Linked DNA regions of Homo sapiens. The protein of the gene in region 2 purifies or fractionates together with the protein of the main gene of each other region. This does not show direct contact. Each region holds a gene or a part of one and is shown on either strand. Other genes may lie near its edges.

Region 1 (5,422 bases), on a different chromosome or scaffold from region 2:
TGTTTCCTCTGTGAGTCACAGCATTTGGCAAATACAGATCAGTTTCTTTCAAAAGGAGGGAAAGTGGGTTCTTTTCCTGGATGTTACTTCCAGGAAAAACGGTTACTTCCTTTGTGAAGTCTTCTAGGACCCGAGCAGTCAAAATTAATTGATTTTTCTCTGTACTGACAAAATGTTTAACATACTTCTAATCATAGCCTTTACTACAGGGAATTAATGGTACATTAATTTTTTCCATTCTCACTTTGGGAAATGGAATTGTGTTTTATTCATCTCTATAACATGTAATAGAACTTAGCTTATAGTAGCATGTGCTCCACGAAATGTTTGTTGAATGTATGGATGAGTGTAAGATAATTAAACTATTTTTTAAGTACTGCTCTGTGCTGATATTTGCAATCTATTTCTCTGCAGGCATCAGCAACTTTAAGACTTACATTTCTCTCCCATTTCCAGACATCTTGAATCCCCCAAAGGGGCTCTGGGCATTTAAGGCATTGTAACAATTGATCCTGAAAGAAGAAAACATAGCACTGTGAGTTCGTGTGAAGTCTGAGCACATAATCTGACTGGCATGGTATTTCTTTTAGAAGTTTTATTTTTAAATTCCTTTCCTCCAGAGGAAAAAATTGTAATTTAAAATCTACTTTGATTTCTGGATCTAAGCAGTAAGGAGTGTACCCCTTTTCTGGTGAACTTTGGTTGCTTTTGGTATTCCCCATCCTTCCAAGGAGATACTTGTTTATTTCACCCTGGTCCCTATACCACCAGTGGAATTTGTTACAAGACTGACTCTGATCTTACCAAACAGTCCCAGCTTGCATTGCAGAAGACACTGTGAGGGCCTTGTTGATGTCATTAGTAAAGACAGCTGCTACGAGTCCAAAGTCTGAGTTATTGGCTCTTTCGATAACTTCATCCATCGTCTTAAATCTCAAAATTTCCTGAACAGGGCCAAAGATCTGCAAAAAGATAATATGACTCAACATGGTTGCTCTGTCATTCCTTTACCTGCTTTCCACATTTCAATGCAAGTTTACTCTGCCTTGATTACTTAAATGACCTTTAAGTTTAGCAGTACAAAACTGTAAAATCTCCCAACCTTTCCTAGGATAAGATTATGCAAGAAGAGTCTGACATTAGTGTTTAACCTCCCCAACTTCCCCAACCTCTCCAGCATCACTTGATTCCACTGTGTATACTAGGGGTGTCTTCTTTAGGTACAGAAGAGCAAGTGGCATCCTCCGTGATCCTGCAAACACTGCTCCAGAACGGAATGCTCTGGACTGTGGGCTGATTTGCTCCTTGTCCCTCTCTTGCACAGATGTAAAGATGCTTCAGTGGATTCTCTCTCCTGGTTAACATCCCAGTGACCCACATTTAGGAGAGCCGAACTATTGCCAGTGTATTGTTGAGGCCAATGGCAGGCTATTCTGATTGTTCTGTTGGCTAATAATAATCATAAGCACATAGCATGTCACCTGGCCTCCACCTAGCTTGCTTGTCTTTTGGTTTATTTTTCTTCTTGAAACTGGAATTTTCATAGCCATGTTCATTACTGTTGCAAAATGAATATATGTAAAATATAAAGAGCTAAAACTCTAATATCATCCACTAGAAATGCTCTAGAAATGATCCCAAGAAAGATGTGGCTTTTGTAAGAACAGCATATTTGATACCTCCTCCTTGGCAATCCGCATATCATCAGTGACGTTGGAAAACACTGTGGGCTCAATGAAAAACCCCTTTCGGCCCAGTCCTTTGCCTCCACATTCCAGCTTGGCGCCCTCAGCCACACCACTCTGGATGAGTTCCAAGATCTTGTTGTACTGTTTCTTATCAATCTGTGGGAGACAAGACTTAATGACTCCAAATATAACCTTCTATGAAAATGGAAATAAGTATGTTCTTGAGAATCTTTCATTTTAGGGTTTTTTTCAAAGTTTAACTACACCCAGTCAGATCATATAAAACTGCTGTTACTTACCAATTTTTGACCTACAAAAAACTGGCAATTTTGTATGGTTAATCCTAATATATCGACGATTCCAATAAATGTACTGCTCTGATGATATTGCCTAATCAGAAGTACCAGCTGAACATTTAGAAAAATGTTTCAAAATGATGGAGACACTGGCTAATTTACTATTCAATGTTCATATGAGGGAAAATTGACTTTTATAATTAAATGAGTAACTTAGCAAGTTGTATTGATAGTAAAAAGAGGCAAAAATTAGCACACAGCCTTTTTAGATAGTGCTACATACCCAATCTTATTGTGGTTTGTTTTTAAAGGAATTCCTATTACACTTTTAGAGGAACTTTAGAGGAAAATATTAACAGTAAAGAGTGAAGGATGAGCTTCCTAGTCCAAAAAAAAACAAGGTCAGTCTTCCCCCAAAAAACTGACGGAGTTATCATTTGCTTATTATGGTAAATAACACAAAAACCTACATTTACCCAAGTTTGAATGGCTCAGCCAGAACATCAATCTTCTCTTGAATAATCCCTAAACCCATGCTTTAGTGACCCATATAAGAGCTGGTCCAGGTTCCTTCTGAAAATTCTCAGAACCTGTCTACAGATTAAAACCAGAATTCCCTTTAGAAATATGCCTCGATGATTACGGTGAACCTGCAGAGGAGGCTGTTCAGGAGAGACTTTGTGGCCCTCCCCACCCCACTAAAGTACACGAGGCCTTCAGATTAAGAAATAACCATACAGCAAAAGGGAAGTGAGCCAGCCCTTCACTTCCTACACTTTCACAAGCTACAAGGGATCTGTCCAGACTGGTTCAGGCTGCTGGAGAGACTCCTTGGCAGCTCGTAAAAGGATAGATGGCTCTAGGAAAGAAAGATATCTACCCTCCTTGACTGTGGCATCTGTAGGGATGTCCTAAAGTTCAGTGATTGGAAGGACTGGGACTGGGTTCTAGTGTCCAGACCCATCTTGTCATACTCATGGCTTTCTTTAGAACTGAGAGACTCCAGCTTAGTCCCAAAGGTCAGAATATTCTTTTTTTTTTTTTTTTGAGACGGAGTCTTGCTCTTTCGCCCAGGCTGGTGGAGTGCAGTGGCACAGTCTGTAAGCTCCATCTCCCGGGTTCACGCCATTCTCCTACCTCAGCCTCCCGAGTAGCTGGGATTACAGGTACCCGCCACCTCGCCCGGCTAATTTTTTTTTTGTATTTTTAGTAGAGACAGGGTTTCACCATATTAGCCAGGATGGTCTCGATCTCCTGACCTCATGATCCGCCCGCCTCGGCCTCCCTAAAAGCTGAGATTACAGGCGTGAGCCACTGCGCCCGGCCAGAATATTCTTAAAGTAATGGTAATCCCATAGTTTTTCAGAGATAAAACTTAGAAAGGGACAGAGAAGCATAAGAAATAAGCAATCCCTCTCTGGCTCCATTTCCAGCCACGAAGACATGGTGGAGAATAAAGGAGTCAGCCGAAAAGGAAGATGTCGCTTTGCTGGGACCTACTACAGTGTACACAGTTCTGTGCCAGTCAAGGATTAAGTAAACAAAGGGAATGGTTATGATTTTTCTACCTGGGGACCCTGCTCAGTGGTGGGGTCAAAGGGACTCCCCACTACGCGCCTCTTGGCCCGCTCCACGCTTCTTCTCACAAACTCCTCATAGATGGACTCCTCCACGAAGATGCGAGAGCCTGCAGTGCAGCACTGACCTTGATTGAAGAACACACCCTGGTGGGCCTGCTCCACAGCATAGTCCACTACAAGAGGAAACAGCCATGTTCTCACCGCTTTGCCTGGGGAGGGGCCTGTCTATGAAGCCGCCTCCCTCCCCTCTCCAAAGCCCTAGGTATAGTGTGCTCACTGCATGACATAACCATGAATAGCCCTGGATTGGGAATGCAACTAGTTCTAACTACACCCTGACATGCTATGTGAACTTGAACAACTTCACTTCTTTGGGTCTCTTTCTTATTCTGCAAACAGAGGTACTGAACCTCGTGTATAACAGGAGTCTCAAACCCCTATATACCACAGGGCTTGGGAGATAAGGTACAGGTATGAGTCTGCCAGGTGGTAAAGCAATGTAATGGAGGGGCTAAGAAGGAAAGCCACTACATTTAATCATTGCCATGCATAAATATGAGCCCCAGGTTGCCAGATCCTCTCAATTTTCACAGAAATCAATATTTTAATGTGCAGTTCTTGTTTTGAACATAGTGTAATGTTTAGACAGGTAAACATGTCTATATTTTGTATTTGGCCAATTTACAACTCCTAAATCTACAGGGCCTTGGGGCTGTATGTTTGGTACTTGGGGGATTAAACCGTAACACCAATGGGTCTTCTTTGAAGACACTAAATTTCCTCTAGATTGACATGGACTTGTGTAAAATCCTATGATAACTCTTCCATATTCATCCCTTATATCTTACACTTCAAAACAGCTTAATCTGACGTGCATTAGTTGCTAAATGACCGACTGACTGAATAAATGAATCAGTCAATGTTAGGGAGATGAAGTTCCTACTCCTCAAGAGGAACAGGCATAAGGATTCTGATTTTCTTGACAACTAATATAAAGCTAAAGCTGAACTCTGCAAATTCCAAGCTGGTGCTGAAATTCAAGCAATCTGCTTTTGGTTTTCTGATCTCTCTGGTGGTGAGACTGGGAAAGCAGCTCTGCCTGGCAACAAGTGGAGGGAAAAAAAAAAAAGAATCACTGAATGAGATGGTGGGATTTCCTTACCTGGAGAGCTTTTCAAACAGAAACGTCACACCTGTGCAGAATGGCCTAGGTGGCATCCTTCCTAGAGACATGGGGTTTCTCAGTTACTTCTCTAAGCCTCTGTAAGGTCCTACTGGCAAGTGGAATCATCCCAGCTTTAGGACTACTCATACCGAACTGACCCACGTGTGCTGTCATCCTAACTGAAAGTCATGCGAGCAACAGAAAGGGGCTGGAATTGACTAAACAGAGAAGGGGCTGTGGGTTTGGAAAATGCTGGCAGGGCTGGTCAAGTCGGATTTATTTAAAATGGTCTACCAGCCACCAGGCACAGTTGAAAAGTTACAGATTTATTGAATCTAGGCAGAGAGACTATCCTTCAGGTGCTCAGCAGCTGAGACCACTGCTGTTGAACCATATGCCACTGACCAAGCCTTCATCTCATCCCCCTATTCTACAACATCACAGATTCAAAATGGCTCATTAGTGTCTAGAAAACAACTGGTTCAGTCGTCAACTGAAAAGTGCTCTTTCCCCATTATTAAACCATTTTCTCCTTAGAGGAGATCTTTTTGATTGCCCTTAGCTTCAAATATCTTTTGCTAGTGTCCCATCAAAAGTGGAGATATAAAAGAGAGCACCAAAGGGTGTGTGGTGGTTCATGTATGGGACCTGTAGTTGACTTACAGTCAGCATCAGCAAAAATAATATTAGGAC
Region 2 (5,422 bases):
CACCAAGGTAGAAAAGGTAGAGGAGGAGGAAAAAAACCAAGGTAAGAAGAACAGCAGCATTCATGATGCCATGCAGGAGTCTAAGGAACTCTTTCCTGCCCCTCATTAACCCCGAAGCAAGAACTACAAAGACCGGCATGTCACCACCCTGGATTAGTCTCATGTTGAAACCAATAGTCCAACTATATTTAATCATAAAACACTCACCATGCAAGGGGGGCAGATACAGTCAGCAGAATAGAAGCATTCCAAGCAAGTAATATCTGAATTTGAACACTCAAACTTGTTAAAACACAGCACTCCTAAAAACTCTAGATCAGCAGAGCCCATAGATAGAGGTTCCCACCATCCACCAGCAAGAGAGTTCAGGACATGCAATCCTTTCACATCAGAGTCCCTTCAGGATGGCTAAAGTTAGATCTGTGCATCTGCAACACTGCTCATGCTATATCAACTTGAATCCAGCCTCTGCTCCCAGTCTTACCACATGAGTTCTACATAGCTTATATGGGTTAGCTTTCCAGCTGGAGTGGGGAAAAGAGAAGGTCCTTTAATTAGATACACACCCTATGCTTAAACGTGTTCCATCTGAGAAGCCATAAACAAAAAGAAAGTCTATTTTTCTTTATTGCTGATATATTTTGTCATCAATTCTTATTATCCCATTTTGGGTGAATCTAGCTAAGAATGATCAAAGCAATAAAGCTACTTAAGCTTGGAGTGGGGTAGGGGAACTACAAAAAGGAAAAGCCCTGCACCATCATCACACTGGGCTGGGGGAGGTAGTTTATTAAAACCACTGCTTTTTCTTCTTCTTTCTTTCTTTCTTTTTTTTTTTTTTTAAAGAGACAGGATCTTGCTATGTTGCCTAGGCTAGATTCAAACGCCTCGGCTCAAGCAATCCTCCTGCCACAGCCTAAGTAGCTGGGACTTACAGGCACATGCCACTAATTCCAGCTCACAACTTCTTAATTAGGGTTTTATATTTCCTAACTGGAAAGAACCACCTTGTGAGTTTATTAGCAAGAAATTGAAATTAAACTCTTAAATTGGGTAAGTGATGTCTTAAGAATACTAATTGCATAGTGGATGGTATTGAAACACAGAGCACAGACTGCTGAGCAGCTCATCTCACCAAACCTAAGAAGGAAACTGGAACAGAGATTAGAATCATATTCCACATTTAATAGCAGGCCCACTGATTTCCACTTGCCCATGTTAGAACACCTCCTAAGGAGACTGCCTGATTCTGACATGAAAGAAAATAGTAGTTAATTCTTTAAAATCCTTTTTTCATTAAATACAGAAGTTTCTATAAACCCTGATTCCCTCCCTCCACCCCTGCCCTAAAAAAACAGTGTTTCTTACCCAGTGTAATCCCGTTTAGAGTTTTTCCTTCTATAGAGGACAGCCAGAATCATGCTGATGAGCAGAGTGAGACCTAGGACCACAGCAGTAACTATGCCCACCACTACCCAAACTGGAAACACAGGCAAATTCTCTAGAGAGAAAGAACAAAATAGTTTTAAGGTACATTGCTACAGAGAGAAAACATGGAATTTTATTAAATTAACGAGCAAGTATCTTCATTTAGCAGTTACCGTACCCTCTTTTATTATCCAAACTATGAGATCCTACTATCTATCCTATTACTATGTAATTCATGACATGTGAATATTAGATGAGAAAGAATGAACTATGGAACTAAGCATTTCTACACCTACAATCCCTCTCAGTGCTCTAAAGAAAAACCGGAGGTGTGAATTTACCTGGATCTACTCTCCAACAAAACAGACTTTGTCTCAAAAATGAGACACCAGAACCTGCATTTCCTGTTTGTTCTCAAAATCAAAAGGAAGAAATAACTGTGCTGTTGTTGAAAGCTTTCTCCTGGAGAATATAAAACAGTATGAATCTCCTTCTTTCCCACTGCCCATCACATCCAAACATAATGAATTTGGTCTTTCTTCTAATTAACACTGAAAAATTCATACTCCTGAAATTAGACCAATAGGCACCAGACGGTAGGAATAAAAATGGAGAAATCAGCCACTCTGGGTCAGAATGAGCAACAAGTTTCCCAGCTCCAAGTGTGTTTGGTAGAGCCACAGGTTCGTGGCAACAGGGAGCACAACTGTATGGCAAAAATCCTCCCTCCAAACCCACCATGAAATGCAACTCATGTTTTCCAACCAAACATGAGATAAAGGAGACTGCATTATTACTGCCAAAATACTCAAGGAAGTACCTTTTTCTACGACATAGAGCCTAATGTGTCCAGGCTGGACAACGATGTCAGGAGGGTTTTTGACATCACAGATATAGGTGCCATTGTGTATAAACTGCATATTTTCTATGTTGATTGATGCATCTTTCTTGTCAAGGTCTCCAGCCCAGCTGATTCTGTCTTTAAATGGTGGATAATTCCCAAGGTACACTTGCCCTTGGGAGTAGTGGAAAAACTGCAATTAGAAAAAAGGAACACATGAACTATTCTCAAAGGCAGAATTCCTAAACTCTGTAATGTGCATGCTATGAAAGGTTCTTTTAAAGACTTCATACGGAAAGAAATGCAACATCTCTCTCCCTCTCCCTCTCCCCCTCTCTCTCCTCCTTTTTTCGGTCTCCCTCTGTTGCTGAGGCTGGACTGTACTGCCGTGATCTTGGCTCGCTGCAACCTCCCTGCCTCGGGCTCCTGTGATTCTCCTGCCTCGGGCTGCCGACTGCCTGGGATTGCAGGCACGTGCGGCCACGCCTGACTGGTTTTTGTATTTTTGGTGGAGAGGGGTTTTGCCGTGTTGACCGGGCTGGCCTCCAGCTCCTGACCTGGAGTGTTCTGCCTGCCTCAGCCTCCCAAGGTGCTGGGTTTGCAGATGGAGTCTTGCTCACTCAATGCTCAATGCTGCCCAGGCTGGAGTGCAGTGGTGTGATCTCGGCTCGCTGCAACCTCCACCTCCCAGCCACCTGCCTTGGTCTCCCAAAGTACTAAGATTACAGCCTCTGCCCAGCTGCCACCCCATCTAGGAAGTGAGGAGCGTCTCTGCCTGGCCGCCCATCCTCTGGGATGTGAGGAGCCCCTCTGCCCGGCCACCCTGTCTGGGAAGTGAGGAGCGCCTCTGCCCGGCCACCACCCCGTCTGGGAAGTGAGGAGCGCCTCTGCCTGGCCGCTGTGCAATCTTCCAAGTGTGAAGTGACAGCCTTTCTGCACGTGTACCCAACAGCTCCGAAGAGACAGCGACCATTGAGAACGGGCCATGATGACGATGGCGGTTTTGTCAAAAAGAAAAGGGGGAAATGTGGGGAAAAGAAAGAGAGATCAGATTGTTACTGTGTCTGTGTAGAAAGAAGTAGACATAGGAGACTCCATTTTGTTCTGTACTAAGAAAAATTCTTCTGCCTTGGGATGCTGTTAATCTATAAACCTTACCCCCAACCCCATGCTCTCTGAAACATGTGCTGTGTCAACTCAGGGTGAAATGGATTAAGGGCGGTGCAAGATGTGCTTTGTTAAACAGATGCTTGAAGGCAGCATACTCGTTAAGAGTCATCACCACTCCCTAATCTCAAGTACCCAGGGACACAAACACTGCGGAAGGCCGCAGGGACCTCTGCCTAGGAAAACCAGAGACCTTTGTTCACGTGTTGACCTTCTCTCCACTATTATCCTATGACCCTGCCACATCCCCCTCTCCGAGAAACACCCAAGAATGATCAATTAAAAAAAAAAAAAAAAAGAAATGCAACATCATATTACAAATCACAAGTTATGGAATCTAAGCCAGACAGAAGTTTAGAGATCACGGCACTCAACCCTGCCAGGTTTCAATGGAAGAATCAGACTCATATATCACCTCTAATCCTCTCAATATTTCATTGATATAATTATTACCACCCATAATTTTATAAAAGACAAAATGGAGACTTAAGAGAAGCCATTTTCCCAAGGTACCAATGATAGTAAATTGGGGACCCAGAGTAAAATTTAGGCCCATCTGAGTCTTCAAAGCCAATGTTCTTCCAGTAACACCATGATTGAGCCCAGTGATTCCCAAGGCTTCAGAAAGCTTAGTGTTGAGTTAGCTTACCACTAAGATACACAGAAGCACAAAGGAGAAGAATCCTAAATATCTCAGATCAGCTAATCTGAGTTTCGCCCTCTTCCTTCTGGTTTCCTATGGAAAAGTCATGGGTGTGTGAAAGGAACAAAGCCCAGATAACACAAGATACTCTTGCCGGCTTTTGAAAGTTCAGCCTTTAGCCCCTTTCTCTTTCCACTCCTCAGTCTCTCCTCAGTCCTGCTTTCAGCAAAGGAACTGTCTTCTCAAAGTAAACCTTGTCAAACTCAGCACCTGGAAGCAGGGTTAAGGCCCAGTGGGAGGGGATCTATCCTCACACTTGGCTCTAATCCAAGCAGCTATGCTGGAGGCCTGATGTCTTTGTTCTGGTTAATGGACGGGGTGATGGTGGAGCTGGGGATAGAAACCAGCTCTATTAGCAATTCAAACAGAACATTTTCAGAACCCTTTGAGCACGGTGAAAACCCCAGTGCAGACTCATCCATTCCTATGATTTAATGATCATCTAGATTTTCTTAACTCCCAAACCTCTCTCTCCATCAATAGCGTCCCCTAAGCTCTAGACTCCTTGCCTACTCACTTTACCACCTGGCTGCCCCTCTCCCCCAAGCTTGTCACCCTCTCTTACAAACTTCATCTTCCCCTCTTCATGTATCGTGTCTTCACTGATGGCTACTGTTTCTTTCCAAAACCATAAATCTTGAAGTCATCCTTGATTCTCTTTCTTCCTATCCAGTTAATCCCCCAATATTGTCAATGTCTCATTAGTTTCTCTCAGTTCTCTCTTCTCTCTATTCGGTTCCCACTGACAATATCTGTTTTTATGTTTTCATCATCTTGGACTATGGCCTCTTAACTGGTATGTCTAACTCATCATCTTCCACAATGCCTAAATGATCACTGATAAAGAATAATGGTTATTATTATAACATTTATCAAATATTTACCCTGCATTTCATATGACCTAAATGCTTGTTAAGAACCGTGAAGGGTCTGAGATTTTACCCTACTTACAAGCTAACAAAGTTAGTTGGCCACAGGTTCATAGGTGCTGACAGAAGACACGGACTCCTGTGAAATCTTCACTCCCATGAAGAAGACTCAGAAACAAAGAACCTTATGAGCAGAAAGCATGTGTTTGTTTCTCTTGCCCCGCAAGTCCCATAGCCATGACATGGAGGGGCTCACATGGATGTTGTGCAGGCAGAGGCGTTGCATCACAGCCGAGGAACCCCAAGCTCAGGGAACACTATTCTCTTACAAGGGGCAGAAGACATGTCTGACTTCAGCCCTGAAAGGAGACACTACCTTTACTATACTCAAGAATACACAAATTTGTCCTTTGC

Evidence for each region. Proteins that work in one complex are often made in the same cells at the same time.
Region 1: the proteins of MPZL1 (region 2) and ALDH1A2 purify together in Homo sapiens (affinity purification with mass spectrometry; one large-scale study listed by BioGRID and IntAct). This does not show direct contact.

What each region holds. Positions count from the first base shown.
Region 1 is NC_000015.10:57,960,333-57,965,754, forward strand, and holds part of ALDH1A2 (retinal dehydrogenase 2), read right to left. Parts: coding exon 5,393-5,422; intron 3,738-5,392; coding exon 3,553-3,737; intron 1,845-3,552; coding exon 1,680-1,844; intron 963-1,679; coding exon 805-962; intron 513-804; coding exon 438-512; intron 1-437. UniProt on the Homo sapiens protein: Catalyzes the NAD-dependent oxidation of aldehyde substrates, such as all-trans-retinal and all-trans-13,14-dihydroretinal, to their corresponding carboxylic acids, all-trans-retinoate and all-trans-13,14-dihydroretinoate, respectively.
Region 2 is NC_000001.11:167,769,315-167,774,736, reverse strand, and holds part of MPZL1 (myelin protein zero-like protein 1 isoform a precursor), read right to left. Parts: intron 2,463-5,422; coding exon 2,249-2,462; intron 1,502-2,248; coding exon 1,369-1,501; intron 1-1,368. UniProt on the Homo sapiens protein: Cell surface receptor, which is involved in signal transduction processes. Recruits PTPN11/SHP-2 to the cell membrane and is a putative substrate of PTPN11/SHP-2.